4 separate regions of the Homo sapiens genome follow, and all the other regions are linked to region 4. Evidence: fine-mapped expression QTL. A gene starts in region 4. Each other region holds a variant in brackets. All regions are shown on one strand. Distances are from middle to middle. Region 1 overlaps CYFIP1 (cytoplasmic FMR1 interacting protein 1). Region 2 has its middle 9.0 kb from the start of CYFIP1. Region 3 overlaps TUBGCP5 (tubulin gamma complex component 5). Region 4 holds the start of TUBGCP5 (tubulin gamma complex component 5).

Region 1 (8,000 bases), 110 kb after region 4:
TTTTTTTTTTTTTTTTTTTTGAGACAGAGTCTCTCTCTGTTGCCCAGGCTGGAGTGCAATGGTGTGATCTTGGCTCATTGCAACTTCCACCTCCCGGATTCAAGCAATTCTCCTGCCTCAGCCTCCCAAGTAGCTGGGACTACAGGCGCACGCCACCATGCTTAGCTAATTTTTGTATTTTTAGTAGAGACGGGGTTTCACCATGTTGGCCAGGATGATCTCCATCTCTTGACCTTGTGATTCGCCCACCTCAGCCTCCCAGAGTTTTGGGATTACAGGCATGAGCCATTGCACCCGGTCATAATCTAGTCTTAAAAGAGCAATGCCAGCACTACTAATTACAGTGACTAGAAATTGTTTTATGATTTGTTTTGCAGGTGATTTTGCCCTTGAGCTTCTTACTCAGGGTACTTTTTTTTTTTTTTTTGAGATGGAGTTTCGCTCTTGTTGCCCAGGCTGGATGGCGTGTGATGGCGGGATCTTGGCTCACTGCAATCTTCGCCTCCTGGGTTCTAGCAATTCTCCTGCCTCAGCTTCCCGAGTAGCTGAGATTACAGGCATGCAGCACCACGCCCAGCTACTTTTTTATATTTTTGGTAGAGATGGGGTTTCACTATGTTGGCCAGGCTGATCTCGAACTCCTGACCTCAGGCAATCCACCTGCCCCGGCCTCCCAAAGTGCTGGGATTACAGCATGAGCCATCGCACCGGGCCCCTCACTCAGAGGATTTTAAGTCACACCGTGGTGTTTAGAGCTGCTCAGGGTCCTCTCAGTGGTCATGCTGTGAGCTCCATGCAGGTTCCCGCCATTGTTTCATTTTGCTTTTGACTTCTAGGCATTGCATTTCCGATCTCATTTAATTCTGTGTCCTAAATATATAAAATATTTGTGTGGTTCTAATATCACATCTATAAAAAGGTATATTCAAAGAAGCCTGCCTTCTCCACGGTGCCCCTTCCTCCCCATAGGTCACATGTTTAAATTTAGGGGGTGGTTATTTGATAGAAGCAAACCCACGTGACTTGTGTGTTGCCCTTCCCCGGCCTAGTGGAAGTGCGCCAAGCCCACGCGTGTAACAGCCCCGCGCCCAGCCCGCGGTCCCCCAGGCGGTGGCTGTGGCAGCGGCCTGTCCCTTGCTCTGTGCTCTGCAGCACGCCCTTGGCCGCCATTTTCCCGGGAGGAGGGTCCAGCACCCACAGCATTTCTTATTTTCTTTTTATTTATTTATTTATTTATTTATTTATTTATTTATTTATTTATTATTTTTTGAGACGGAGTCTCGCTCTGTCGCCCAGGCTGGAGTGCAGTGGCGCAGTGTCGGCTCACTGCAAGCTCCGCCTCCCGGGCTCACGCCATTCTCCTGCCTCAGCCTCTGAAGTAGCTGGGACTACAGGTGCCCGCCACCATGCCCAGCTAATTTTTTTGTATTTTTCAGTAGAGACGGGGTTTCACCGTTTTAGGATGGTCTGGATCTCCCGACCTTGTGATCCGCCCGCCTTGGCCTCCTGCATTTCTTATTTTCACACGTGTGACTTTGGGGTGGATTCTCATGGTGGATCCCGGGATGGGGGGAGCTGGGTGGGGGCGCTGGTTTCTCACGGGGCCGTGCCCGCCTTGTGCAGGTGGTCACGGGCTCGGGCCGCCAGGAGGCCCAGAAGACGGACGCGGAGTACCGCAAGCTCTTCGACCTGGCGCTGCAGGGCCTGCAGCTGTTGTCGCAGTGGAGCGCGCACGTGATGGAAGTGGTAGGCCCCGTCCCCGACCCCAGCCCCGCTCCAAAGCTGCCTCGGGCACTTTATTCACATTAACTTTTGGTCTTTGGGCTTTTTATCTTTGGCCCTAGAAAGACGAGAATATCTATCAGTAGATATGTTTCCAAGGTGATTTTAAGTACATCTCATTTATGTGTGTAATAAATGAAGGGCCTCCTTTTTAAAAAAAATCTTGATAGAATTAAATTTGTACCATTGTGATTTTCTTTAAGTCGTTCTTTTTTTGAGATAGTCTCACCCTGTCGCTTAGGCTGGAGTGCGGTGGTGCAAACATAAGTCCCTACAGCCTTGACTCCCCACCCCAAGCGATCCTTCTGCCTCAGCCTCCCAAGTTGCTGGGACCACAGGTGTGCACCACGGCTCCCGGCTAATTTTTTTTTTTTTTTTTTTTTTTTGAGACGGAGTTTCGCTCTTGTTGCCCAGGCTGGAGTGCAATGGCGTGATCTCGGCTCACTGCAACCTCTGCCTCCTGGGTTCAAGCGATTCTCCTGCCTCAGCCTCCTGAGTTAGCTGGGATTACAGGCGCCCACCACCACTTCTGGCTAATTTTTTTGTGTTTTTAGTAGAGATGGTATTTCACCATGTTGGCCACACTGGTCTTGAACTCCTGACCTCAGGTGAACTACCCGCCTCAGTCTCCCAAAGTGCTAGGATTACAGGCTTGAGCCACCGCACCTGGCCTAGTTTTTTGTTTTTTGGTTTTTTTTGTACAGACAGTCTCGCCGTGTGGGCCAGGCTGGTCTCAAACTCCTGGCCTCAAGCCATCTGCCTGCCTGGGCCTTCCAAAGTGCTGGGATTACAGGCGTGAGCCACTGTACCTGGCCAAGTCTCATTTTTTCATTTAAATTTTATTTTGCTTTAAATATTTACTTGTATTGATGCATAATAGGGGTACATAGTTTCAGGATACATGTGATAATTTAATACAGTCATACAGTTTGCAAAGATCTAATTGGTGTGCTTGGGATGTCCATCGCCATAAATATTTGTCCTTATGCCAGAAAAATTCGAGTTCTTCCCTATCTATTCTGAAATGTACCATAAATTATTTTAATTAATAGTCACCCTAACTGATCTATCTAACACTGTCTTATTTCTAATATCAGACTGTACATTTGTACCCATTAATGTCGCTTCACGCCCTGCATTTTTAAGATAACATTTTCTCTTTGGAGCTCCAGCCATCAATGTCTTTTGTTGAACATTAGTAAATTATTTCTGGTGCCATATAAAGATTTGGATACCTGTAAGCAATGAAAGATTTTCCCTTTTGTGATTTATTTTGATCACATAAAAATTATCAAATTGGAAGAGTACATGGTCATTTGAAAGGCAAAATCTTTATTTACTTACTTATTATTTTATTTTTTGTAGAGATGAGGCCTCACTATATTGCTCAGGCTGATCTTGAACTCTTGGGCTCAAGTGATCCTCCTGCCTCAACCTCCCAAGTGCTGGGGTCATAGGCATGAGCCACTGTGCCTGGCCCAGAATCCTTTTTAAAATGATGATGAAATGCCAGAGTCTTAGATACTCAGCACTCACTATCCAGGCCATTTTGCCGGGTAGATTTTTTAAACGAGAGGTTACAGGGCCAGGGTCTTTTGCCCATCTGTGGAGATGGACGGTGTGTGCGCCCTCATGTGTGACTTTCAGAATGCAGCAAAGGTTTGAAGGCTGGCCTGGCTTTGGCCACCATCGTGTGAGTCAGACCAGAAGCCAGGCGTTTTGCATGCAATATGGAACACCTCTGCTCTTTCGGCCACCACAGTATTCCTGGAAGCTTGTGCACCCCACCGACAAGTACTCCAACAAGGACTGCCCCGACAGCGCTGAAGAGTACGAGCGTGCCACGCGCTACAACTACACCAGCGAGGAGAAGTTTGCCCTAGTGGAGGTGAGGATGCTCGGCCGCTCGCTCTTCCTCATGTCGCTCTAGCTTCACACCATCTTCTCTGTCAAAAGCAAAAACATGAACAAAACTGCCTGTTTACTCATTGCTTCTGTGTGGGCACCCCTTTCCATCTGGCAGAGTAGTCAGAGTAGAACGCATTAGAGAAACAGTGGTTGTCGGTCCTGGGTCTGCACTGAAGCTCCCTGGGTGCGAATCTGGACTCCTGGACCTGCGTCTGGATGGAGAGCAGTGTCGGGTGCGGGGAAGGGAGGTGAAAGAGATGTGGCCCCTGCTGAGAGAGAAGAGCTGTCTTGCTCTCCTGTGAGGCAGGCGCTGCACTCCCCTC[G/A]TGAGCCTTTCCATGGGCAGCTCTTCATTCCAGCATCAACTGGTATCTTTTCTTTCATAGCTGTGCTTTTCCTGTGCTGTTTGAGAAATCTTTGCATACTCTCAGGTCGTGAAGGTATTCTGCATTGCTTTCTGGATACTTCACTCTGCTTTCACACTGAGATGCGAAATTCACCTGAAATTCATTTTTGAAACAATTCCGTCCAACCCTCACGCTGCCACCTTTGTAGCTGGTCACGTGACAATGCATGTGTGGCTGTGTTTCTGCTCTGCTCTAACCCAGTGTCAGTTGCTGTCGGTATCCCAGCACCACTCTGTAGCTTTGTAGTCATCTACCGTGTATGAGAAAGCACGTCTTTCTGTCTCCTAGACTTCCTTGGCTATTCTTCCCCACTGTAGTTTCATATTCATTTTAGAATCAGCTTTTCCCATCCCACAGTGAGGATTTTAATCAGGATATGAACAATCCTATGGATCATGACAGGAGAATTGACAGAAGTCTCATACAGTTGGCCCTCAGTGTTCTTGGGTTCCACCTCCATGAACCAACCTTGGGTCAAAAATGTTCAGAAAGAAAAAATAACACTACAACAGTGAAAAGTAATAAAAATGTTAAAAACCACTGTTTTGGCCTCAGCCTCCTGGACTCAAGCAATCCTCCCACCTCAGCCTCCCCATTAGCTGAAACTATAGGTGCATGCCACCACACCTGGCTAATTTTTATATTTTTGGTAGAGATGGGGTGTCACCAAGTTGCCCGGGTTCGTCTCAAACTCCTGAGCTCAAGCAATCCACCCGCCTCAGCCTCCGAAAGTGCTGGGATTGCAGGTGTGAGCCACTGCGCCCAGCCAAAATTTTCTGATTTTTTGACATAAGGTTTTTCATAGTAAATTCTCATCTTATTTTGGTAGAAGCTTTTTTTTCACATAACCATACAGTTCACCCATTTGAAGTGTAAAAGTCAATGCTTTCAGCACATTCACAGAGTTGTACAGTCACAATCAAATTTAGAACAAATATAAATGCCAGCCCATTATCAGCCACCCTTCATTCTTCCCTCCCTCAACCGTATGCAGCCACCACTCTGCTTTCTGACCCTGTAGATTTGCCTGCTCTGGGCATTTCATATGAGTAGATCATACCATATGTGGCCCTTTGTGACTGGCTTTCACAAAGCATAATTTTCACTTAGCATAATTTTCCTTTTATTTTTCTTAAGATGGAGCCTTGCTCTGTCACCCAGGCTAGAGGGCAGTGGCGTGATCTCAGCTTACTGCAACTTCTCCCTCCCGGGTTCAAGCAATTCTTGTGCCTCAGTCTCCAGAGTAGCTGGGATTACAGGCACCCACCACCACGCCCGGCTAATTTTTGTATTTATAGTAGAGACAAGGTTTCACCATGTTGGCCGGGCTGGTCTCAAACTCCTGACCTCAGGTAATCCGCCTGCCTTGGGCTTCCAAAGTGCCAGGATTACAGGCGTGAGCTACCGTGCCAGGCCACTTAGCATAATTTTCAAGATTCACACAGGTATCACTGTTTTGTTCTGTTTATTGCTGAATAATATTGCATTACATGGATATGTTACATTGTATTTATCCATCCATCAGATGATAGACATTTGGGTTATTTCTACCTTTTCACTACTATGAAGTTGCTGAGAACTTCTTTTTCTTGTTTTTTTTTTTTTTTTTTTTTTTGGAGACAAGGTCTCACTCTGTCACCCAACTGGAGTGCAGTGGCAGGATTATGGCTTATTGCAGCCTCAATCTTCTGGGCTCAGACAATCCTCCCTCCCCAGCCTCCCAAGTAGCTAGGACCACAGGCACAAACCACCATGCCTGACTAATTTTTAAATTTTTTGTAGAGATGGGGTCTCACTGTGTTGCCTAGTCTGGTCTTGAACTCCTGAGCTCAAGTGATCCTCCTGCTTTGACTTCCCAAAGCACTGGGATTAGAGGTGAGCCACCATGCCCAGCCTCTATGAGCTTTCATGTGCGGGTTTTTGTGTAGATGCTGGTTTTCATTTCTTTTGATTGTATAGCTAGAAATGCAATTACTGGATCATAACAGCACATTTAGCTTTTGAGGAACTACCAGATAGTGGCAGCACCATTTCTCCTTCTTACCAGCAGTAAGTGAGGGCTCCAGTTTCCCCACATCCACACCAAACTTGTTATTGTATGTCTTTTTGATTCTAGCTATCCTAGTGGGTGTGAGGTGGTATCTCATTTCATTGCGCTTTTGATTTGCGGTTTTCTAACAACTAAGGATGTTAAACGTCTTCTTATGTGCTTGTTGGCCATTTGTGTGCATTATTTGGAGAAATGTCTCTTCAGATCCTTTGCCCATTTTTAATTAGGTTATCTTTTTTATTATTGAGTTGTAACAGTTCCTTATACATTCTAAATATCAGTTCCTTACAGCCATAGGATTTTCAGTATCTTCTCCCATTCTATGATTGTCCTTTTAGTTTCTTAATGGAGTCTTTTGAGACACAAAGTGTTTGAATTTTGATTATGTTTGATTTATCTGTTTTTCTTTCGTTGCTTATGCTTTTGGTGTCATATATAAGAAATCATTGTGTAACCCAGGTCATGATGATTTACTCCTGTGTTTCCTTCTAAAAGTCTTTTTTTTTTTTCTTTTTTGAGACAGAGTCTTGCTCTGTCACCCAGGCTGGAGTGCAGTGGCATGATCTCAGCTCACTGCAACTTCTGCCTCCCAGGTTCAAGCAATTCTCCTGCTTCAGCCTCCCAAGTAGCTGGGATTACAGGTGTGCGCCACCACACCCAGCTAATTTTTGCATTTTTAGTAGAGACAGGGTTTCACCATGTTGGCCAGGCTGGTCCTGAACCCCTCACCTCAGGTGATCTACCCGCCTTTGCCTCCCAAAGTGGTAGGATTACAGGCATGAGCCGCCACGCCCAGCCTCTTCTAAAAGTTTTATAGTTTTAGCTCCTAACTTAAACCTAATTTAAATATATGATCCATTTTGAGTGGATTTTTATACAGCGTTTGACAAGGTTGTGTGAGGGGCCCTCCAGACCACCCTCCATCCCCCTGACTGGCTGGGAGGACTCACAGGGCTTGGTAGTTGTTGCACTGAAGGTTATGACTCCTTGCAGCCAAAAGACAGAGTCAGATCAGCAAAGGGAAAAGGCACAGGAGTGGAGTCCAGAGAAGACAGGTGTAAACTTCCAGCTGTGCCTGCTAGTGGAATTGCACGGGACGTGCTTATTTCTCCCAGCGATGATGTGTGACAGCACACACAAATTGTGGCTCACCAGGGCAGCTCCCCAGAGCCTTGGGGTCCTGGGTTTTTACTGGGGGCCAGTCACGTGGCTGACCTTGGCTACTCAGACTCTAGGTCCTCAAAACACACACAGGAGGTCACTATTAGTCACCTTGTTAGCAGAGACTGATCAGACTGGTACAGCAGTAGGCCCGGGGCCCCAGGCACACAAAAACATAATCTCTAGGCAGGACACTCCCAAGGTTCAGAGCTGGTTCCTGGGATGACTTCAGCCAGTCCTGAAGATGGGCCTTTCTTGGGGATGTGCGGAGTTTCATTCTCCCCAGCCTGCTGAGTTAACCCTTTCCTGCACAAGGGTCCACCTTGATTCTCTCGCATGTGCAGATACAGTTGTCAGTACTATTTGTTGAAAAGATGATCTTTCCCCATCAAATTGTTTTGGTACCCTGTTGAAAATCAATTGTAAGTTAACTTCTGGACTCTTAATCCTATCCCATTGACCTCTGTCTATCCTATGACAGTATTTTTTCATAATCTCTTAATCTGTCTATAAACTGCTAATGTCCCCTTTTTCATTCTTAATGCTGGTAACTCGTGCTTCTTTTTTTTTTTTTTTTTTTTTGAGACAGAGTCTCGCGTGTTGCCCAGGCTAGAGTGCAGTGGCACAATCTCAGCTTACTGCAACCTTCACCTCCCGGGTTCAAGCTACTTCTGGCCAATTTTTGTATTTTTAGT
Region 2 (8,000 bases), 50 kb after region 4:
TTCCAGCTGGGCGCGGTGGCTCACACCTGTAATCTCAGCACTTTGGGAGGCAGAGGCAGGCGAATCACGAGGTCAGGAGTTCGAGACCAGCCTGACCAACATGGTGAAACCCTGTCTCTACTAAAAATACAAAAGTTAGCCGGGCATGGTGGCGCATGCCTGTGATCCCAGCTACTTAGGAGGCTGAGGCAGGGGAATCGCTTGAAGCCGGGAGGTGGAGGTTGCAGTGAGCTGAGATCACACCGCTACACTCCAGCCTGGGCGACAGAGCGAGACTCAATCTCAAAAATAAAGAGTTTCCAATCACATCCTGAGCATCGTCTCTAGAGCACATTTTCTTGGCAGTGCCATATAGTTTATCCTTGCTCGATAGTCATTTTCTTATTTTAGCATCATTTGCCGTATGGGGAGGCTAAAACATTTCAAAACCATTAATTCTGTCTCCTTTTTTTTTTAAATCTTTCTCTCAGTTAATGCTCTCCTCTCACATTTTACTATACCCAGCAGGAAGAAACCAGGCAGCATCTTGAATACTTTGTTTGGAAAATCTCATTAGCTAGGTCACCCGTTTATTATGTATATTCTGTCCTATCCATGTAACGTCAGGTAACAGCAGGGCTAAACTTTCTGCTGCTACTTAGTGAAAGTCTTCCTTCAATTTCCAATAACAACATTCTTCTCACTTTCTTTTAAGCCCTCTTCAGCAATGTCCTCAAAGTCCAAAGTCTAAGAACAGTGTGTTCAAAGCACTTTAGTGTCATCAACACTCTCCTCAAACCCTGGTCCCAGAGCCATGCCCACCTGTTAGGTTTTGCTACAGCAGCATCCTCTCTCTGTACCAAAATCTGTATCAGTCCAAGAGCAGAGCCATTAATATACATGTGTGTGTGTGACACACATATACATACATATATATGTGTGTATATATATATTACCCATACACCCATACCTGTGGATAATCGTGGACTTGCTGCAGGGCTTTGCTCTTACACAGTTAATTGTGTAAACTGATTCGTCAGTTTCCATAGGGCTGCCTGTTGTCTGCATCCGACGCTGGAGCCTACTGTCCACAGGAGGTTTGGGAGGGACCTAAACCTGCGTCAGTTCTTGCTGCTTCTGGCCTTGGTGGTGTGGAGGTGCTGCAGAAGCTAGGGCCTCTCATCATGAAGATGAGCCAGATGCCTCCTTCGGGAGCCACAGGATCCAGAGAGTCAATGAAAGTAAAACTTCAGGACTGTCTGGATTTATTACGCCAGGGAGGAAGTTGAGCCCTGGAGACTGTCAGGTCGTACGACTGCAATTCTTCTCAGATTCACTCTCTTCCTCATTGTTCTTGTTCTGTAAATGACTAAGAGAGACCAGAGACCAGACCTCCCCACTTCCAATCACTGGTTTTGTTGTAGATGAACTGCCTCCTTTGCTGTCCGGTACCTAATGTGGACCAGACGGTGCTCAAGACCCTATCACTAGTACAACCTCAGTGTGGAATGTTAAATATGCCTTGCCTGGAAGAAAAAGACCAACTTGACTAATCAGATCATCATAACTATGCATGAAGTCTTCCACAGAAAGATGATGAAATTTTGTTACACTTCCCTAACCTTTGTCTAAATAAGCATTCCCAAACATCTACACTTTGGAACACTGACTTCTGTTCTTTGAGATGGGTGCTTCCCAGGTGGCCCATCCTCAAACTTTTTGCTTGAATAAACTCTCTAAACTAGATTCTGTTCCTTTTGATTATTTTAGGTTGACAAGAAGAAGGCAGTAGTGGCAGTCCTGGCCATGGTGGTGTTAACAGTGTAAGCTGTCAGACCCACAACACGTGTGAGCCACAACACAGTGGCAGCTCCCTGCCTCTCCCCAAGCCTCCGCCAGCGCCTCCCTCATGGTCTTGCAGAAACACAGGAAGAACTCTAGTAAACCTGGGTCAGCTTAGCCAGCTCCACATGCTGCAAAGCCACCACATCAATTCATGGCATCATTAAGTTAAGAAAGAGTAATTTGGCTGGGCATGGTGGCTCACACCTGTAATCCCAGCACTTTGGGAGGCCGAGGCAGGCGGATCACCTGAGGTCATGAGTTCGAGACCAGCCTGGCCAACATGGTGAAACCCCGTCTCTACTAATATAGAAAATTAGCCGGGTGTGGTGGTGTGCGCCTGTAATCCCAGCTACTCAAGAGGCTGAGGCAGTAGAATCACTTGAGCCTGGGAGGCAGAGGTTGCAGTGAGCTGACATCGCGCCACTGCACTCCAGCCTGGTGAGCGCGCGAGACTCCGTCTCAAAAAAAAAAAAAGTAATTTATTATAAGGAAGTCCTTATACTGTTGCCTGTGGCTGCTGTAACACATTACCATAAACCTGGTGGCTTAAAACAACAGATATTCATTCTCTTGAAGTTCTGGAGGACAGAAGGCCAAAATTCAAGGGAGCAATAGGGCCATGGCCGCGCCATTCTTTGCCTCCCCAGTTTCTGGGGGCTGCCAGCATTCTATGACTGTGGCTGTGTGGCTGCTTCACTCCCATCCCTGCCTCTGTGTTCACACTGCCTCTTTCTGGGTCTGTTCTCTGCGTGTCTCTTGTAAGCACACTGCTTATTGGATTTAGGGCCCCTTCAGATAATCTAAGATGATCCCATCTCAAGAACTTAGATCTGCTAAGACTCTTTTTCTTCACATAAGGTAACTGTCTTAGTCTGTTAAGGCTGCTATAACAAAGCAGCATAGACTGGGTGGCTCTAAACAGGAGAAATTTATTACAGTTCTGGAAGCTGAGCGCCCAAGATCATGGCACCACAGAGTTGGTGTCTGGTGAGGGAATGGAGGAATTTTAATCCAAAAATGCATGCTGTGTTTCCTGCTCGGGGAGAGCTGTCTCCCTGTTCTGCTGGTATTTGTTTTTCTACCTGTTACTTCTGCTTTCTCACCTTTCCTTGCTGTGCTTTTCCTGTAGTGGTTGGAAGGTGGATGCTCACAGATCCCAAATGCACGTGACCAGTTCTTGGCTCCAGCCTTGGCCTGGGTTCCCCAGAAATACAACCTGAGACAAAGCCGTAGGTGCCTCTACTCTGAGATGGGGTGCAGTGCCCGTAGTGGGAGTCAGAGAGTGCCCTAGCAGGAGGAGGAGAGAGATGGAAGAGGAGGGGAAGAGGAGGGGGAGGAGTGGGAGAAGGAGGGGGAGTGCTGATGGATATGGGGCCATCTCAGTAAGATGGCATTGCTAAGTGTGCCTGCCCCACCTCTCGGGATGTCCCTAGAAGCCATGTGGACTGCATCAGGAAGGAAAGAGAGGAATCTGCCTGTGAGTGCCTCTCATTAGTCAAAGGTGCAGGGAATGTTAACTCTGTGCACAGCTGCATGGTTCATGTGTGATCTCAGAGGACTCTGATGCCTCCTGGTGACAGGGAAGCCCCAGGGCAGGAGGTGAGAGATCCAGGCGGGCACCAGGGAGACGTGTGGTTGGGTTCTTGGTTGGAGTCCACATGTTTTCACTGCAGAAGAAATAAAAGTCCTGAAGTTAGGAGGCTGTGATGTGAGTGAGAAAGTTCCAACTCTAAGCTCCCAACCAAGGTTCCCACAGCGAGTCAACTTGGGTCAGGTGCCCACTCCAGCTTGAACAAGGTGTGGCAAGAAATAAGAGATCAGGTTGTACAAATATAGCAGCTGAGATCATGCTATTGTGGAATGGAGGGATCAGTTAAGAAGGAATTAAAGTTCCTCCTGGTTGGCCAGGCACATGACTTGCACCTGTAATCCCAGCACTTTGGGAGGCCAGGTGGGAGGATCCCTGGAGGCCAGGAGTTCAAGGCCAACCTGGACAACAAAGTGAGACCCTGTCTCTAGATAAATAAATAAATCATAAATTTAAAAAGACAGACCAAGACAAGTATGATTTAAGGGGATATGTATGGGTGCCAAGTTAACAGGGGGTGGGTTGTGGTGGTCTTTTTATTGTGTCAACCTAGTGAGGCTGTCCCAGCTGTT[C/G]TATCAAACACACACCTCGTGTTGCTAGAAGGTATTTACTGGATGTGATTAAATTTCATATCAGTTGACTTTAAGTAAAGGAGATGATCCCAGGCAGTCCAGCTGGGCCGGATTCAATGGGTTAGAGGACACTGAGGCAGAGCTCCAGCTTCCTGAGACAAGGCGGAATGGTAGCCCCAAAGCTGTCTGCTTCCTAATCCCTGGGCCGTGTGACTATGTTAGTTTACATGGCAAGAGGAGAATTAAAATTGCAGATGGAATTAGGGTTGCTAGTCCACTGACTTGAGATAGAGACGTTACCCTGCATTATCTGGGGATGTCGTCACACGGCTCCTAAAGGTGGAAGAGGGGACAGAAGCACAGTGTCAGAGAAAGGTGTGAGGCCAGGGCAGCCTGAGGGCAGAGCCAGCTGAGGGCTTTGAGGACAGAAAAAGTCAAGGGAAGGAGCAGGATCCGGGAATGTGAGTGGCCTCTACACCAATATGGAGAAATCCTGTCTGTACTAAAAACACAAAAACTAGCTGGGCCTGGTGGTGCATGCCTGAATCGCTTGAACCAGGGAATCGGAGGTTGCAGTGAGCTGAGATCACGCCACTGCACTCCAGCCTGGCAACAGAACAAGACTCCGTCTCAAAAAACAAACAAACAACAAACAACAAAAAAACAGATTTTTTTTTTTTTTGAGACGGAGTCTCGCTCTGTCGTCCAGGCTGGAGTGCAGTCACGCGATCTCGGCTCACTGCAAGCTCTGCCTCCTAGGTTCACGCCATTCTCCTGCCTCAGCCTCCCGAGTAGCTGGGACTACAGGCACCCACCACCACGCCCGGCTAATTTTTTTTGTATTTTCTAGTAGAGACGGGGTTTCACTGTGTTAGCCAGGATGGTCTCGATCTCCTGACCTCGTGATACGCCCGCCTTGGCCTCCCAAAGTGCTGGGATTACAGGCTTCAGCCACCGCAACCGGCCAAAAAAACCAGATATTAATTATCTTCAAGTTCTGGGGGCTGGAAGGCCAAAATTCAAGGCAGCAATAGGGCCTTGCCTCCACCATTCTTTACCTGCTCAGTTTCGGGGGCTGCCAGCATTCTATGACTTGTGGCTGTGTGGCTGCTTCACTCCCATCTCTGCCTCTGTGTTCACACTGCCTCTTTTTCTGGGTCTGCTCTCAGTGTCTCATGTAAGCACACTGCTTATTGGATTTAGGGCCCCTTCAGATAATCTAAGATGATCCCATCTCAAGAACTTAGATCCGCTAAGACTCTTTCTTCATATAAGGTACTGTCTTAGTCCGTCAGGACTCCTATAACAAAGCACCATAGACTGGGTGGCTATAAACAGGAGAAATGTATTACTCATAGTTCTGGAAGCTGAGTGCCCAACATCAAGGCACCACAGAGTGGGTGTCTGGTGAGGTCCCACTGTCTGGTTCTCAGTGGCTGTTGTCTGGCTGTGTCTTCACATGGCAGAAAGGACAAGGCTGTTCTCTGGGGTGTCTTTTTTTTTTTTTTTTTTTTTTTTTTTTGAGATGGAGTCTCGCTCTGTCACCCAGGCTGGAGTGTGGTGGCGCAATCTCGGCTCACTGCAAACTCTGCCTCCCGGGTTCATGCCATTCTCCCACCTCAGCTTCCCGAGTAGCTGGGACTACAGGCACCCGCCACCACGCCCGGCTAATTTTTTGTATTTTTAGTAGAGACGGGGTTTCACCGTGTTAGCCAGGATGGTCTCCATCTCCTGACCTCATGATCCACCCACCTCAGCCTCCCAAAGTGCTGGGATTACAGGCGTGAGCCACCGCGCCTGGCCCCCTCTGGGGTGTCTTTTATAAGGGCACAAATCCCACTCATGAGGACTCTACTTTTGTGACCTGTCAGCTCCCAAAGGCCCCACCTCCTAATGCCATCATCTTGGTGATGGGGTTTCAACATAGTAGTAACAGCCACAGGTTCCAGGGATTTGACACAGGTATTTGCTGGGGGATGCTTTTTCAGTTTACCAGAGCCAAAAATTTGTAGTAATTTGTTGTGACCGTGACAGAAACCTAAAAACAGGACAGTAACTTTCTTTTCTTTTTTTTTTTTTTTGAGATGGAGTTTTGCTCTTGTTGCCCAGGCTGGAGTGCACAATGGAGTGATCTTGGCTCACCACAACCTCCGCCTCCCCCATTCAAGTGATTCTCCTGCCTCAGCCTCCCAAGTAGCTGGAATTGCAGGCATGTTCCACCACGCCCGGTTAATTTCTTGTATTTTTAGTAGAGATGGGGTTTCTCCATGTTGGTCAGGCTGGTCTTGAACTCCTGACCTCAGGTGGTCCGCCTGCCTCAGCCTCCCAAAGTGCTGGGATTACAGGCGTGAGCCACCGCCCCCAGCCACAGGACAGTAACTTTCTGATGGCCTGCCCTCCAGATTTCATCCTAGCTGAGCCAGCCCCCATAGTGCATAAGCCAATTCCTTGCAGTAAATCTCCTAATATGTATCTCCTACTGATTCTGCTTTTCTGGTTGAACCCTGACTGACATAATATGCTTGTGTCAATATCAGCCTGACAAAGATGCAGAATATTTCCAAGTCCCCAGAAGTTTCCTACACGCCTCTTTTCAGTCCATCCTATTCCCTGCAGACCACCTCACCCAAGCAAACGATTTAACGATTTCTGACTTCCTTTTCTTTCTTTTTTTTTTTTTGAGACAGAGTCTCATTCTGTTGCCCAGGTTGGAGTGCGGTGGCGCAATCTCAGCTCACTGCAGCCTCCACCTCCTGGGTTCAAGTGATTCTTCTGCCTCAGCCCCCTGAGTAGCTAGGATTACAGGCACCCACCACCACACCCGGCTAATTTTTTGTATTTTTAGTAGAGATGGGGTTTCGCCATGTTGGTCAGGCTGGTCTCGAACTCCTGACCTCGAGTGATCCACCCGCCTTGGCCTCCCAAAGTGCTGGGATTACAGGGGTGAACCACCACGCCCGGCCAATTTCTGACTTCTGTCACCAGTGAGTAGTGGTGCTATCTGTCATGGAAGTTCATATAGATGAAATCCCACAATATGTACATGGTCTTTTGTGTGTGGAAAATTACAGAATAGTTTTGAGGTTCATCTATTTTATAATACTACTTGTATATCCATTTTCTTCCCCTTTTAAAAACTTTTTTCATCATATTGTTTTCCATAGTGGCACCATTTTACATGCCCACTAAGAGTACACAGAGTTCCAATTTCATCATATCCTTGCCAATACTTGTTATTTTGTTTATTTTTATTTTATTATTATTATTATTTTTTTTTTTTTTTTGAGACAGAGTCTTGCTCTGTCGCCCAGGCTGGAGTGCAGTGGCGTGACCTCGGCTCACTGCAAGCTCTGCCTCCCGGGTTCACACCATTCTCCTGTCTCAGCCTCCTGAGTAGCTGGGACTACAGGCACTCGCCACCACACCCAGCTAATTTTTTTGTATTTTTGATAGAGACAAGGTTTCACCGTGTTAGCCAGGATGGTCTCGATCTCCTGACCTTGTGATCCGCCCATCTCGGCCTTCCAAAGTGCTGGAATTACAGGCATGAGCCACCGTGCCCGGCCTATTATTTCTTTTTTTTGAGATGGAGTCTCACTCTGTCGCCCAGGCTGGAGTGCAGTGGCAGGATCTTGGCTCACTGCAACCTCCGCCTCCTGGGTTCAAGCGATTCTCCTGCCTCAGCCTCCCAAGTAGCTGTTTGTTGATAGTAGGCATCCTAATGAGTGTGAAATAGAAAAACACAAGAACAAATCCTTTTGATTTGTTCTTTCCTTTTTATTGCTGAGTAATATTCCATTATATGAACAGTATTTGTTTATCCATTCTCCTATTTGTGCACTTTGGGTTGTTTCTAGTTTTTTGCGATTATAAATAAGCTGGTAAGAATATTCATTATACAGCCAGGTGTGGTGGCTCATGCCTGTAATCCTAGCACTTTGGGAGGCCGAGGCAGGCGGATCACCTGAGGTCGGGAGTTTGAGACCAGCCTGATCAACATGGAGAAACCCCATCTC
Region 3 (8,000 bases), 26 kb after region 4:
TTTAAAAAGTAATCCCCTGCCATTTCTTTTCTTTTATTATTTTTATAAATTGACATAATAATTGTACATATTCATGGGGTACATAGTGATGTTTTGATACATATATAGTGATCAGATCAGGATAATTAGCACTTCCATCATCTCAAACATTTACTACTTCTTTATGTTGGGGACATTCAGTATCCTCTTCTTTGCTATGTGCAACTCTATAATACATTATTAACTATAGTCATCCCATAGTGATACAGAGCACTAGAACTTATTCCTTCCAGCTAGCTATTTGTATCCTTTAACAAATATCTTCCTCTTTCTCCCTTCCCCCTACAAAATCCAGCATCTGGTATCCTGTTCTACTTTTTACTAATACGAGATCAACATTTTTTAGCTACCAGATGAGTGAGAACATGCAGTGTTTAACTTTCTGTTCCTGGCTTATTTCACTTAATGTCCACCATTTCCATCAGTGTTGCTGCAAACAACAGGATTCACTCTTTTATCTTCAAGATATATACATATATATATATATATATCTCACAATTTTTTTACCCATTCATCTGTTGTTGGGCACCTAGGTTGATTCCATGTCTTGGCTGTGTGAATAGTGCTGCAGTAAACATGGGGGTGCGGATGTCTCTTTGATATCCTGATTTCCTTTCCTTTGGATAAATGCCCACCAGTGGGATTGCTATATCATATAGTAGTTCTATTTGTAGTTTTTTGAGGAACCGCCAAACTGTTCTCCATGGTGTCTGTACTAGTTTATGTTCCCACCAACATTGTGTAAGAGTTTCCTTTTCTCCACATCCTCACCAGCATTTATTTTTTGTCTTCGTGATAAATAACCATCCTGACTGGGGTGAAATGATACCTCATTGTGGTTTTGATTTGCATTTTCCCTAATAATTAGTGATGCTGAGCATTTTTTCATCTATTTCTTGGCCATTTGTATTACTTCTTTGGAGAAATGTCTGTTCAGATCATTTGCCTTTTTTTTTTTTTTTTCCTGAGACAGAGTTTTACTCCCATCACCCAGGCTGGAGTGCAGTGGTGCAATCTGGGCTCACTGCAAGCTCTGCCTCCCTGGCTCAAGTGATTCTCCTGCTTCAGCCTCCTGAGCAGCTGGGATTATAGGCACCCGCCACCACACCCGGCTGATTTTTTGTGTTTTTAGTAGAGACGAGGTTTCACCATGTTGGCCAGGCTGATCTCGAACTCCTGACCTCAAGTGATCTGCCCGCCTTGGCCTCCCAGAGTGCTGGGATTACAGGCGTGAGCCACCGTGCCTGGCCTCATTCATTGAATTCTTTCACTGTAAAATTTGTTTGTTAAACATCTGTTTCTGTTGAATTTCTCATTCAAATCATTCTTTTCCTGATTTTGTTGAGTGTTTATTTGTACTGTCTTGTATCTCACCGAGTTCTCTTGTATCTCACCGAGTTTCCTTAAGATTTTAATTCTGAATTATTTTTCCGGCATTTCCTATATCATTGTAGTCTCTTGCTAGAGAATTATTGGTTTTCTTGGGAGGTGTCATGTTTCTTTGCTTTTTCATGTTTGATGTATTTCTACATTGATTTCTACACATCTGGTGGGAAAGTCACCTTTTCCAATTTTATGGAGTACGTTTTGTAAAGAGTTATTCATATGAATGGGTCTTGGAGTGTGGGTTCAGTGGGATGCATTCACCTTGGTTCTGGACAAATGCAGTAGTATAGTCTCCATGTACTTTCTTCAGTTGTAATCCACTTTAGTGATGTTTGCAAGTGCCTCAGTGGCCTACAGTGAGGGGGTTTGTGGCAACAGTGGCACAGTTGGCTGGGCGTGGTGGCTCACGCCTATAATCCCAGCACTTTCTTTTTTGAGACAGTCTTGCTCTATTACCTAGGCTGGAGTGCAGTGGCATGATCTCGGCTCACTGCAAACTCTGCCTCCTGGGTTCAAGTCATTCTCTTGCCTCAGTCTCTCAAGTAGATGGGATTACAGGCATGTGCCACCACGCCTGGCTAATTTTTGTATTTTTAGTAGCGATCGGGTTTTACCATGTTGGTGAGGCTGATCTCAAACTCCTAGCCTCAAGCAATCCACCCGCCTCGGCCTCCCAAAGTATTGGGATTGCAGGCGTGAGCCATCACGCCCAGCCAATCCCAGCACTTTCGGAGGCCAAGGCAGGTGGATTACTTGAGGCCAGGAGTTTGAGACCAGCCTGGCCAACATGGTGAAACCCTGTCTCTACCCAAAATATAAAAATTAGCTAGATGTGGTGGCGCATGCCTATAATCCCAGCTGCTTGGGAGGCTGAGGCACAAGAATCACTGGAACCCGGAAGGCGGAGGTTTGCAGTGAGCCAAGATTATACCACTGTACTCCAACCTGGGCAACAAAGCAAGACTCTGTCCCAAAACAAAAAACAAACAGTAGCACAGCTTTGCTGGGATGGGCTTGCTGGACTGTTTCTCAGATTAGGGGTACATGCATGTACACAGTGGTTTGGCCAAGGTGGGGTCTGGCTCAGGGTTTGGGACCACAGGCTGTTACTCTGGCCAGGAACATGAGCATGTGGTTGCTTGGCCAGCCTATAGGTTTATTTGCCTGCCAGCAATGGCCCAAGGGGCTGTTTCTCAGGCCTAGGATGTAGGCACAAAACTGGTTTTCTGGCCAGGGGCTCCATGAGAACAGCCCTCAGGGTCATTTCTCAAGCCTTGGACATGAGCACAGGCTTCTTTGCTCGCCTGGGAGTATGTTTGCTGGGGGTAACCTATAAGGCTGTTTCTTAGGCCCAGGATGTGGGTACAAGGCTGCTTTGCTAGCCTGGGTGCATGTCTGCCTGCACAGTTCAAGGGGCTCTTTCTCAGTCCTGGGACATGGTCACATGGCTTGTTGGCCGTCCTAGGTATGTATCTGCCAGTGGCAGCCCATGAGGCTGCTTCTGAGGCCCAGCATGTGGGTGGAAGGCTGCTTGGCTGGCATGAGGGTGTGATTACTGGGGGTGGTCTTCAAGGCTCTTTCTCAGGTTTGGGATATGGGTGCCAGCTGGCTCAGAACATGCCCACCAAGGGCAGACCACAGGGCTGTTTGGCAGGCCCAGTATGCAGGCCTGTGGCCGCTCTGTTGGCCTGTGACTCCCAGGCGCTGCCTATGGGGCTTCTTCTCCAACCAAAGATGCCGTGCAAGGCCGCTCAAGAAGCCTAGGTACATGCCTGCCAGGGCAGCCTCTGAAACTGTTTCTCAGACCCTGAATGCTGACCCAGGGCCACTGGGTAGGCCACGGGCCTGTCTGCAAGGGGTTGATGCTGTGGGGCTGTTTCTCAGTTCCTGGGCAAAGGTCTGTAACTGCTTCACCAGCCTGGAGGCATGTCAGCTGGTAGGAAGCTCAGGGGTCTGTTCCCACCCTCTAGAGATGGCACAGCAATTTGGCCAGCTCAAAGATGGGTTTGGTCTGTTGGGGCTGCCAGACTGTTCCTCTGTCTGAAAGTGCAGTGGCAGGGGCTGGTTTTTCTGCTGTGCAGGACCAGAATCACCAGTCGATCCTGGGCCCAGGCTCCACATAGCTGGGGTTGTGGTGTTCAGCCATCCCTGTGGCCTTGGTGGAATGAGGATGGAGCCCCAGTGGCTGGGGTGCAGGAGAGGTGCAGCAGCTACTGGCCCAGAGGAGGGCGTGCTCCAGAGGTGGCTCTGGTCTGAAGATGGTGCCATGCTGCAACAGCTTGGCTCAAAGGGGTGGGTGGGGAAGGCACACCTTGTGCCCCTAACCCGGGGCAAGGCAGCTGCGTGAATTCCCAGCAGCTCTCCAAACTGGGCTCAGAGCTCGTGGGAACTGTGGAATCCTCCTGTAGTAATGACTGTAGGTGTTTGTGGGGGCTGGTGGGTTTCTTCTGCTTACCCTTACCCTACAATGGGAAGTCCTTCTTGACTCCAGACCAGCCTGTTCTGCGAAGCTGCAGAGGCTGGAAGCCTCCACACTGCCCTCCTGGGCCTCCAGTCACCAACACTGTGTCACATTCCCCCTCTGCACTCCAGCACTCGCCCTTCAACTCCAGTCGGATCTTTTTTTTTTGAGACGGAGTCTTTCCCTGTCGCCCAGGCTGGAGTGCAGCGGCGCGATCTCGGCTCACTGCGAACTTCGCCTCCTGGGTTCTCTCCTGCCTCAGCCTCCCCAGCAGCTGGGACTACAGGCGCACACCACCGTGCCCGGCTAATTTTTTTGTATTTTTAGTAGAGACGGGGTTTTACCATACTAGCCAGTATGGTCTCGATCCCCTGACCTCATGATCCGCCCGCCTCGGCCTCCTGAAGTGTTGGGATTACAGGTGTGAGTCACCACCCCCAGCCTCCAGTCGGATCTTAACTGTTGATTCGTTGCTTTGGTCCTCTCTTGCTGTTGGGAGAGGAACACCAGA[C/T]GTCTCCAGGCAGCCACCTTGCTGGCGACTGGAGTGCAGTGGCATGATCTCGGCTCACTGCAACTTCTGCCTCACAGGTTCAAGTGATTTCTCATGCCTCAGCTTCCCAAGTAGCTGGGACTATAGATGTGAGCCACTACGCCCGGCTAATTTTTTGTGTTTTTAGTAGAGATGGGGTTTCACCATGTTGGCCAAGCTGGTCTTGAACTCCTGACCTCAGCTGATCCACCCGCCTCTTAAAGTGCTGGGATTACAAGCGTGAGCCACCACAACCAGCCCTTCTGGCATTTCTTAATGCAATGCAGCGTTTAGCCCTTGAGGGCCGTGAACCATGGCTGATAAGAATTTCTTATGAGCAGTTCAGACTCGATCATAAATTTCAAGAAAATGATGCAATTTAATATATTCAAAGTTTTATGCTGTAATCCCAGCACTTTGGGAGGCTGAGGCAGGCAGATCACGAGGTCAGGAGATCGATACCATCCTGGTCAACGTGGTAAAACCCCATCTCTACTAAAAATACAAAAATTAGCTGGGCATGATGGCATGGGCCTGTAATTCCCCACTACTCAGGAGGCTGAGGCAAGATAATCGCTTCAACCAGGGAGTCAGAGATTGCAGTGAGCCGAGATCATGCCACTGCACTCCAGCCTGGTGACAGAGTGAGACTCCATGTCAAAAAAAAAAGTTTTATCAACTGACTAAAAAGGCTTGGAAGATAAAGATGTGACCTTATTTATACATCTCAATCATCTCAATGTTATGTTAATTATATTATTGTATCTACTTGAAATAAGTAGATGCAATACTTATTTTCACTTTGTGGAATATTTCCTTCTTATGTAGTGAGCTTCCCAGGGCCACTGTCAGAAGTGTTTTTTCCAATGAGACTGCGACTCCTATCAGGGTTACCATAGTGTTATGCAGTATTGTAATAAATTTCAAGTGTGCTGATTAGGATCTTACTCTTTTTTTTTTTTTTTTTTTGAGTCAGGTTTCACTCCTATTGCCCAAACTGGACTGGAGTGCAGTGGCGTGATCTCAGCGCATTGCAACCTTCACCTGCCAGTGCTCACGCAGTTCTCGTGCCTCAGCCTCCCAAGTAGCTTGGGACCACAGGCACATTCCACTGCACTCAGCTAATTTTTTTGTAGAGCTGAGGTTTCACCATGTTGCCCAGGCTGGTCTCAAACTCCTGAGCTTAAGTGATCCACCCGCCTCAGCCTCCCAAAGTGCTGGGATTACAGGCATGAGCCACTGCACCCGGACATGATATTATTTAATATTTCTTGGGCCAGGCACAGTGGCTCACGCCTGTAATCCCAGCACTTTGGGAGGCTGAGGCGGGTGGATCACTTAAGCTCAGGAGTTTGAGACCAGCCTGACCAACATGGTGAAACCCCGTCTGTACTAAAAAACAAATATATAAAATTAGCCGGGCGTGGTGGCACATGCCTGTAATCCCAGCTACTTGGGAGGCTGAGGCAGGAGAATTGTTTGAACCCGGGAGGCGGAGGTTGCAGTGAGCCAAGATGGCGCCATTGCGCTCCAGCCTGGGCAACAAGAGCAAAACTCCATCTCAAAAAATATATATTATTTTGTTACTATATATAAATATATATATTTAATATTTACATATATTTAATATTTATATATAAATATATAGATTTTGTTACTTAATATATTGTTAATGTTAATATGATTAAACAGAATGTTACTTAATATGATTAAACAGAACTTAGTTCACCTTACATATTTCTTTATGTTTCAGATGCAGAAAGAAAAAGTTTATACACTCTCTTTCTGGAATCTGTACAGTCCCGTCTTCGACATGGAGAAGATTCCACTCCACAGGTTCTTACTGAGCAACAGGCAACCAAGGAGAACCTGATGAAGATGCAGTCCATTGCTGAAAGCCATCTTGAACTGGATGATGTTCATGATCCACTGCTTGCCATTAACTTTGCAAGGTGAGACACACCTGCAAGGTTATCAGTAATTGAAATGGCATCATTTGTGCAATGTTTGCTAACTGTTTATTTCTGGCAGGTAGGGCTAAAAACAAAAACTCTTGTAGGCTATCCTTTCTTTTTTCTTTTTCCTTTTTTTTTTTTGTTTGTTTGAGATGGAGCCTCAGTCTGTCACCCAGGCTGGAGTGTAGTGGTGTGATCTTGGCTGACTGCTGCAACCTCTGCCTCCCAGGTTAAGCAATTTTCCTACCTCAGCCTCCCAGCTACCTGGGACTAGAGGCATGTGCCACCATGCCCCGCTAATTTTTGTATTTTTTGTAGAGACGGGGTTTCCTCCTGTTGGCCAGGCTTGCCTCGAACTCCTGACCTCAGGTGATCTGCCCACCTCGGCCTCCCAAAGTGCTGGGATTACAGGTGTGAGCCACCATGCCATGCCTATCCTTTATAACAAGCAGAATACAAGATGTTGTGCTCACCTACTTCAGGTGTATAGTTTGGATTCCATGTCGTTTGTGGAAGTCTGCAGACTTGGCCCTGCCACCATGTGGTACAACTTTTGTCTGTGCCCTCGGGCCCCTGGAAATGTCATCATTTACCCAGAAGATGCTGAAACTCTGGGCCATGAGTGGGCCCTGGACACCCATTGAGTCAGGGTCCCCACTGGCATATAATATGTCCTGGGCTTAAGCTGCTTTTAGGCACTTAGTCCATTAGAGTAAGTCATTAATACCCACACAGTTCCCGGTTGTCTAATGGCCAGCATTTGCTGTGTCCAGCCCTAATCACTAGAAAGACCAGCTCTAGTACCTGACCCTAAGTCAGTGGCAACTTCAAGAGACTGGTTCACTCAAAGGATATTTTTGGGAGAAAGATTTTTCTCTTTCTGTAATAGTTGGTAACTTCAAGACTAAAGGTAAAAATGGAACTTCAGGGTTTTGATTTAAGAGAGTTCTGTTGACAGCAGCTCATAAAAAGAAGACTCACATTTTTATCTTGAAGGATGTATTTGGAGCAGAGTGACTTTCACGAGAAGTTTGCTGGTGGTGATGTATGTGTGGATAGATCATCGGAATCTGTGACATGCCAGACTTTTGAATTAACGCTGAGATCCTGCCTCTATCCTCATATTGACAAGCAGTATCTAGATTGCTGTGGAAATCTCATGCAAACTCTAAAAAAAGATTACAGGTAAAAGAGTAATTTAATTTTGGAAGTAGTAAATAGTTGATTGTACTTGAAGAACAGTTGAGATTATTTTAAAACCTATTTCAATTTTTATTAGAGTAGGAAATGGATATACAGTAAACAATTTTCTAAGAGAAATCAATTGACCATCAATATTTTCTTAACTATGTTTTGAAACTTAATTCTTTATTTCTGAGAATCTTTCCCAAAAGAAATACAGAAAAAGCTTGTAGAAAAATTACAAAGTTTGTTATCAGAATGAAAAACACTAAATTACTTAGTGATAGATGACTAGTTTTTTAAACTATGCATATCCATAAATATGGCATATACATACCCACATATGAACTTTGTAAAGTTCATAAAAATTATGGCAATTAGGCCGAGCACGGTGGCTCACACCTGTAATCCCAGCACTTTGGGAGGCTGAGGTGGGAGGATCACGAGA
Region 4 (8,000 bases):
TGGGATTATGATATCCCCCTAGCACCTCTGGCCAGGTGAGGTTATGATGTCCCCCCAGCACCTCTGGCCAGGTTGGGTTATGAAATCCCCCCAGCACCTCTGGCCAGGTGACATTTATGAAGTCACCCCCAGCACCTCTGGCCAGGTGGGGTTATGAAGTTCCCCCCGCCCCCCAGCACCTCTGGCAGGTGGGGTTATGATGTCCCCCCAGCATCTCTGGCCAGGTGGGATTATGATACCCCCCAGCACCTCTGGCCAGGTGAAGTTATGATGTCCCCCCAGCACCTCTGGCCAGGTGGGGTTATGAAGTCCCCCAGGACCTCTGGCCAGGTGGGGTTATGAAGTCCCCCCCAGCACCTCTGGCCAGGTGGGGTTATGAAATCCCCTCCAGCACCTCTGGCCAGGTGACATTTATGAAGTCACCCCTAGCACCTCTGTCCGGGTAGGGTTATGAAATTCCCCCTGCCCCCAGCACCTCCGGCCAGCTGGGGTTATGATGGCCCCACAGCACCTCTGGCCAGGTGGGGTTATGATGTCCCCCCAGCATCTCTGGCCAGGTGGGATTATGATACCCCCCAGCACCTCTGGCCAGGTGAGGTTATGATGTCCCCCAGCACCTCTGGCCAGGTGGGGTTATGAAGTCCTCCCGGCACCTCTGGCCAGGTGTGGTTATGAAGTCCCCCGCAGCACCTCTGGCCAGGTGGGGTTATGAAATCCCCCCCAGCACCTCTGGCCAGGTGACAGTTATGAAGTCACCCCCAGCACCTCTGGCCAGGTGGGGTTATGAAGTTCCCCCCGCCCCCCAGCACCTCCGGCCAAGTGGGGTTATGATGGCCCCAGAGCACCTCTGGCCAGGTGGGATTATGATGTCCCCCAGCACCTCTGGCCAGGTGGGGTTATGATGTCCCCCCTGGCACCTCTGGCCAGGTGGGGTTATGATGTCCCCCAGCACCTCTGGCCAGGTGGGGTTATGAAGTCCCACCGGCACCTCTGGCCAAGTGTGGTTATGACGTCCCCCCCAGCACCTCTGGCCAGGTGGGGATATAATACCCACCCCCAGCACCTCTGGCCAGGTGAGGTTATGATGTCCCCCCGGCACCTCTGGCCAGGTGTGGTTATGATGTCCCCCCGGTACCTCTGGCCAGGTGTGGTTATGAAGTCCCCCCGGCACCTCTGGCCAGGTGGGGTTATGAAGTCCCACCGGCACCTCTGGCCAGGTGTGGTTATGATGCCCCCCCGGCACCTCTGGCCAGGTGTGGTTATGAAGTCCTCCCGGCACCTCTGGCCAGGTGGGGTTATGAAGTCCCCCCGGCACCTCTGGCCAGGTGGGGTTATGAAATCCCCCCCAGCACCTCTCGCCAGGTGACATTTTGAAGTCACCCCCAGCACCTCTGGCCAGGTGGGGTTAAGAAGTTCCCCCCGCCGCCCAGCACCTCTGGCCAGGTGGGGTTATGATGGCCCACCAGGACCTCCTGCCAGCTGGGGTTATGATGGCCCCACAGCACCTCTGTCGAGGTAGGATTATGATACCCCCCAGCACCTCTGGCCAGGTGGGGTTATAATACCCCCCCACAGCACCTCTGGCCAGGTGAGGTTATGATGTCCCCCCAGCACCTCTGGCCAGGTGTGGTTATGAAGTCCTCCTGGCACCTCTGGCCAGGTGTGGTTATGAAGTCCCCCCAGCACCTCTGGCCAGGTGGGGTTATGAAATCTCCCCCAGCACCTATGGCCAGCTGTGGTTATGAAATCCCCCCCAGCACCTCTGGCCAGGTGACATTTATGAAGTCACCACCAGCACCTCTGGCCAGGTGGGGTTATGAAGTTCCCCCCGCCCCCCAGCACCTCCGGCCAGGTGGGGTTATGATGTCCCCCCAGCATCTCTGGCCAGGTGGGATTATGATATCCCCCTAGCACCTCTGGCCAGGTGAGGTTAAGATGTCCCCCCAGCACCTCTGGCCAGGTTGGGTTATGAAATCCCCCCAGCACCTCTGGCCAGGTGACATTTATGAAGTCACCCCCAGCACCTCTGGCCGGGTGGGGTTATGAAGTTCCCCCCGCTCCCCAGCACCTCCGGCCAGCTGGGGTTATGATGGCCCCACAGCACCTCTGGCCAAGTGGGGTTATGATGTCCCCCCAGCATCTCTGGCCAGGTGGGATTATGATACCCCCCAGCACCTCTGGCCAGGTGAGGTTATGATGTCCCCCCAGCACCTCTGGCCAGGTGGGGTTATGAAATCCCCCCCAGCACCTCTGGCCAGGTGACATTTATGAAGTCACCCCCAGCACCTCTGGCCAGGTGGGGTTAAGAAGTTCCCCCCGCCCCCCAGCACCTCCGGCCAGCTGGGGTTATGATGGCCCCACAACACCTCTGGCCAGGTGGGGTTATGATGTCCCCCCAGCATCTCTGGCCAGGTCAGATTATGATACCCCCCAGCACCTCTGGCCAGGTGAGGTTATGATGTCCCCCCAGCACCCCTGGTCAGGTGGGGTTATGAAATCCCCCCCAGCACCTCTGGCCAGGTGACATTTATGAAGTCACCCCCAGCACCTCTGGCCAGGTGGGGTTACGAAGTTCCCCCCGCCCCCCAGCACCTCCGGCCAGGTGGGGTTATGATGGCCCCACAGCACCTCTGGCCAGGTGGGGTTATGATGGCCCCCCAGCATCTCTGGCCAGGTGGGATTATGATACCCCCTAGCACCTCTGGCCAGGTGAGGTTATGATGTCCCCCCAGCACCTCTGGCCAGGTGGGGTTATGAAGTTCCCCCCGCCCCCCGGCACCTCCGGCCAGCTGGGGTTATGATGTCCCCCCAGAATCTCTGGCCAGGTGGGATTATGATATCCCCCTAGCACCTCTGGCCAGGTGAGGTTAAGATGTCCCCCCAGCACCTCTGGCCAGGTTGGGTTATGATGGCCCCACAGCACCTCTGGCCAGGTGGGATTATGATACCCCCTAGCACCTCTGAGCAGGTGAGGTTATGATGTCCCCCCAGCACCTCTGTCCAGGTGTGGTTATGAAGTCCTCCCGGCACCTCTGGCTAGGTGTGGTTATGAAGTCCCCCCAGCACCTCTGGCTAGGTGGGGTTATGAAATCTCCCCCACCACCTCTGGCCAGGTGACATTTATGAAGTTCCCCCCCTCAGCACCTCTGGCCAGGTGGGGTCATGAAGTCCCCCAAGCCGCCCCTGAGGAACAGGCGAGGCAAGGGCCAGCAGGCACTACTAGCGGGTCGGGACAGCTGCTTCGCTGATGCTGGTTGTGTAGCATGGATGTGTGTAGCGTGACTGTGTTGTGTGGATGGGGCACGGAAATCCGCAGAGACCATCACTGGAGGGAGAAGCTGCAGGGCCGGGAGGGTTCAGCAGGTAAGCAGTTCAGGGTTCCTGGAAAGGCGGGTCCCAATGCATTTGCTGACCGGGCACCTAACGGGCTGCTCTCAAAATCACTGACTGTCACCGAGGCCGGCCAGAGACCCTTATGTATCTGATTCACGATGACACCAGCTAACTCTGAGTACAGTAGAAAACGTACCGTCGGGCAACCAGAAAATGCGCACTCCAGTCCCCACCACGGGACAGCGCCAGGCAGTACCCTCCACAGCCGGAGCTCGAACTGTCGCGAGAATAGCGGTCGGCTTGGAAGTCGCCCGGCGCGGGAGCGCGAACTCTCGCGAGAATGCCGCCAGCTCCGGAGGCGACTGCGGCAGGAGCCCGAGCTCTCGCGCGACAGGCACCAATTCGTTAGACGCGCGCTGCAGGAGCGCGGAACATGGCGCGGCACGGGCCACCGTGGAGTCGGTTGGACGCGCAGCAGGAGCGCGACGTGCGGGAGCTCGTCCGGGGTGTCGCCGGCCTCCAGGACGAGGCAGACCCCAACTTCCAGCTCGCCCTAAACTTCGCCTGGTCCAACTTCAGGTGTGGGGCACGGCGCGCGGGCGGGTTCCCGGCCACAGCCCGGAGCCCGCGCGTGGGTCCCGCACAGCCCGGGGTCGGGGCGCGCTGGGGCAGGGCATGGGGCGGAGGCGGGCGCGGCCTCAGGGAGCCTTCGCAGGCCCTGCCACCGCCTGCTCCCCGCCGGCCAGCGCTCTCGGCGCGGTGCCCTGCGCACCACAGGGCGTGTTACCCGGGACGCGTCCTGATCGTCACGGGGAAAGCGTGAACTGGGTTTCTTGCCGGCCGGCGCGCGCGCCTGCAACCCCAGCGCTCTGGGAGGCCCAGGCGGGACTCCAGGCCAGCTTGGGCAACGTAGCAACTCCATGTTTATAATTTTTTTTTTTTTTAAATTAAAGAGATTGTATTCTCACTGACTCCTGCTCCCTGGTCAGCCCAGTGTAAGATCTCTCACCCTGCTCTCCTTTTTCCAAAACGCGTGTCATGACACTGATTTAACCTGTCATTACTGTCTCCTCCACTTCCACTCCAGCTAGAATGCTGCATCTCTGCACAGCTCCTGGCACGTAGCACGCTGAGTCACCTAATACAATTTCTAATGCAGTTTCTCTTGTAACTAATTTTTAAAGACTTACAGAATTTAGATATTTACGTAAAGTGAGATCTCCTATTTTTCTTTATGGGAGATGTAAATTAATACTTTTAGAGTCATTACCCATAATGAAATTATTACTAAAAAAATGTTAATGTTAATATTCTACCTGTTTAATTTCAGTAAAAATCTTCTTGAATAATGAACAGTTTTTCAAAATCCGTAATCTTAGTTACCTTAATGATCATAGCCATAAAGTGTCTAGTTGGCTTATAATAGGAATACGGGGCTTTCAGATTCTTTTAAACCATGCCAAGTTTCTGAAGTAATAAACTGAATTCTTAAGTGTAACTTATAAAAATAAACAATGTGTGAAATAGGTTATACAATACAGAAACTTAAATGCTGAAATCCAAGTTATTTTTCTACTAATATTTCTAAATGACAGTAGGCAGATTGTCATCATTTTAGAGCTGGGAGAGACGTTGGAGGTTACTATTTTCATTCACAGATTTCAGGAACTAAATTATAATAGGTAAAGTGGTGTTCCATTCACCCATTTACTGGCCTAGAATCATGTGTTTTTCAGTAGTGTAATTTTATTTAAGTACAGATTGCTCGCTTTGATACTAAAAAATGGAAAACATTTTTTGCATAGGCTATGCTATGTACATATACATTAGTTGCATAGGCTGTGCTGTAATTTTATGATGCTTTAAACCATCAGAAAAATGAATAGTTCATGTTTACATTCTTGAAAATTGTGGACTGGGCGCGGTGGCTCACGCCTGTAATCCCAGCACTTTAGGAGGCCGAGGTGGGTGGATCACGAGGTCAGGAGATCGAGACTATCCTGGCTAACACGGTGAAACCCGGTCTCTACTAAAAGTACAAAAAATTAGCCGGGCGTGGTGGCAGGCGCCTGTAGTCCCAGCTACTTGGGAGGCTGAGGCAGGAGAATGGCGCGAACCCAGGAGGCGGAGCTTGCACTGAGCAAGCTCACTTTTCTCTAACTGAAAAGTAGCATCTCCTTCTATTATGAATGAAGGCAGCAAACCATAGCAGTATTAGCCTACCTATGACTTTATCACCAGTAGAAATCGCATACTGTTTTCACATCAGAGTTGTAGATATTTGTAAATGTTGTTTACTGTTACTTTAATGGTAGTTAATTGGACCTACTGCTAAATCTTGTTATTTAATACTTTCATAAATAACATTTCTTGCCATATCTTAAACTTCTTTAAATATTTGACAACTGTATCTCAGTATAATGGGATTCCTTTGTATTTATTTTTTGGCTTTAAAAATGTTATTCAGAGAAGGGGTCCTTAGGCTTCACCGGGCCTCACTATGGCATAAAAAGGTTGGGACCACCTGATGTAGAATGTGTTCAGCTGGACTTAGGTACAGGGGCTTATGGGAAGACAGAGGAGCCAGAGGACAAGGTTGGGAGGGTCAGGAAGAACCTGTGTGCTGGAGAAAGGATGCTTGCACAGTCTCGGACACGGTGATTATTTGCCTGCCTGATGGTGGAGGTAACGGAGGACAAGGTACACTCCATTCTGGAAATGTGTAGCTGAGTACAGAGCATATGGGGGATATGGAGGGCCATGAGATGAGTTCACTTACCTGTGTGACAGAGTTGGCATAAGAATTGCATTTTGTCTTTAATAGATTTCATCGTTTCTTGGATGTCAACAGCCACAAAATAGAAAAAACAATCGAAGGGTAAGTCAGTGTGTATATATACGCATCCAGAAATATATGTATTTTCTTATAGATCTTTTTAAGATAGCTTTATAATCTTTTCTTATATTTTAGAATTTATGAAAAATTTGTCATTCATTCTGATCTAAGCAAAGCTGCTAGTTGGAAGAGATTAACGGAGGAATTTCTAAATGCACCACTTCCCAGTATAAAGGAAATAAAGGTATGCCTTCAATTATGAGATCTCCACTGTGTATTTTACTGTTTCCTATCTGATTATCGTCAATTTGTTTCAGTTACTGTTTAAACATTCTATTTTAGTATTATCTACTGGCTAACGGGATCTCTTGGAAATTTACTTAAATATTGCCATCAAACCAGATATGCCTCAGTTTGTGATGAAAGAAAGAGCTTGTTTTTAATCATTTTTTCACCTCAGTCCTACTAAGGAAAGAGAGATCAGAGATTGATACAAATAGTAGCATTGTTTGGGTATCTCAAAACTTTCAAATGGTTTCTCAGCACTTGGCAGTGACTGTCTGTAGATGCTTACTAGATGCCTGGTATACTTTCATATTGTTTGGGGGATTCCCCAAGACCACCTTTTGGCATAATGATTTGCTCAAAGGATTCACAGAACTTAAAAAAAAAAAGCTGTTATCCTCACTGTTAATAGTTTATTACAGTGAAAGGATACAGATTAAAATCACCAAAGGGAAAAGGTGCTTAGAGCAAAGTCTAGGAGAAGCTAGGCACGCATGTCCAAATGTTCCTTCCTAGTGGAGTCACCTGGGGATGCAGTTAATTCTCTCAGTAACAGTATATGACAACATGTGCAAAGTATTACCCTCCACTCCCCCCAGGGCCACTCGGCTGAGCCTTGGTGACCAGCATTTTTATTGGGGGTGGGTCACATAAGCAAGCAGAGCCCACATGGCTGACCTTAGCTGCTGAGTCTGTAGCCCCCTAGAGGTCAAACCAAGGATGGCAAGCGTATGGAAACAGCTGTGGGTTCCCTGAACACGGTGGGACCACATTCCCTAGCTCTGCTGTGACACATCTTGTGCCTACATAGTTCTTTCCCTTTCTCCTGCCTGAGGAAGCTCACGTTTTAATATTAAACTCAGGCACTGTCTCCACACATGCTATGTATTTCAATTCTTTATAGTTCCTTTCTTGTCTCCCCCTTTAAAAGGCACATTTTACAGGCATAGGGCTCTGTGTCTGATTTGTTCCCGGACACCTAGAGCACAGTGGACAGTGCATGTTTGTTGAGGGAATCAGTAAGGCTGTGCAGTCTTGTCTGCTTCACTATCCCCTCTGTGTCCACAGCCCCCACCCACTTACACAAGGTGGGATTGGTTATCCTTTTCTCTTGCTGTGTGGCATCTTGGATGTGTTTGTTATGGCAGAGGTCCCCAACCCCCACATGGTGGACGAGTACCAATATGTGCCTGCTAGGAACAGGGCTCCATGGCAGGAGGTGCAGTGGGGTGAGTGAGGATGACTGCCTGAGCTCCACCTCCTGTCAGATCAGCGGTGGCATTAGATTCTCATAGGAGAGCAAACCCCATTGTGAACTGCACATTTGAGGGATCTAGGTTGCATGCTCCTTATGACAATCTAATGCCTAATGATCTGAGGTGGAACAGTTTCATCCTTGAAACCAACCCCCACCCAACAGTCCATGGAAAAATTGTCTTCCACAAAACCAGTCCCTGGTGCCAAAACGGTTGGGGATTGCTGTGTGGTGTAGCAATAACTTCACACTTTTTTTCTTTTTTTTTTTTAAGACTGAGTGTCACTTTGT

Evidence for each region.
Region 1: its variant is fine-mapped to the expression of TUBGCP5 in tibial nerve (GTEx, PIP above 0.99).
Region 2: its variant is fine-mapped to the expression of TUBGCP5 in whole blood (TOPMed, PIP above 0.99).
Region 3: its variant is fine-mapped to the expression of TUBGCP5 in whole blood (TOPMed, PIP above 0.99).

Annotation. Positions count from the first base shown.
Region 1 is chr15:22,921,652-22,929,651 of GRCh38, reverse strand. It overlaps CYFIP1 (cytoplasmic FMR1 interacting protein 1), which reads left to right. Exons shown (of 31, transcript NM_014608.6): 12 at 1,624-1,746; 13 at 3,545-3,670. Among named protein-coding and RNA genes, the nearest start is that of CYFIP1, 55 kb to the left of the region's middle. The variant G/A (reference allele first, on the strand shown) is at 4,014.
Region 2 is chr15:22,985,402-22,993,401 of GRCh38, reverse strand. It overlaps a transcript of TUBGCP5 not described here. Among named protein-coding and RNA genes, the nearest start is that of CYFIP1, 9.0 kb to the right of the region's middle. The variant C/G (reference allele first, on the strand shown) is at 3,985.
Region 3 is chr15:23,009,500-23,017,499 of GRCh38, reverse strand. TUBGCP5 (tubulin gamma complex component 5) reads left to right here. Exons shown (of 23, transcript NM_052903.6): 14 at 6,169-6,367; 15 at 7,367-7,555. Among named protein-coding and RNA genes, the nearest start is that of TUBGCP5, 26 kb to the left of the region's middle. RefSeq lists an enhancer at 3,527-4,437. The variant C/T (reference allele first, on the strand shown) is at 4,398.
Region 4 is chr15:23,035,310-23,043,309 of GRCh38, reverse strand. TUBGCP5 (tubulin gamma complex component 5) reads left to right here and starts at 3,741. Exons shown (of 23, transcript NM_052903.6): 1 at 3,741-3,912; 2 at 6,158-6,211; 3 at 6,305-6,413. The coding sequence starts at 3,767.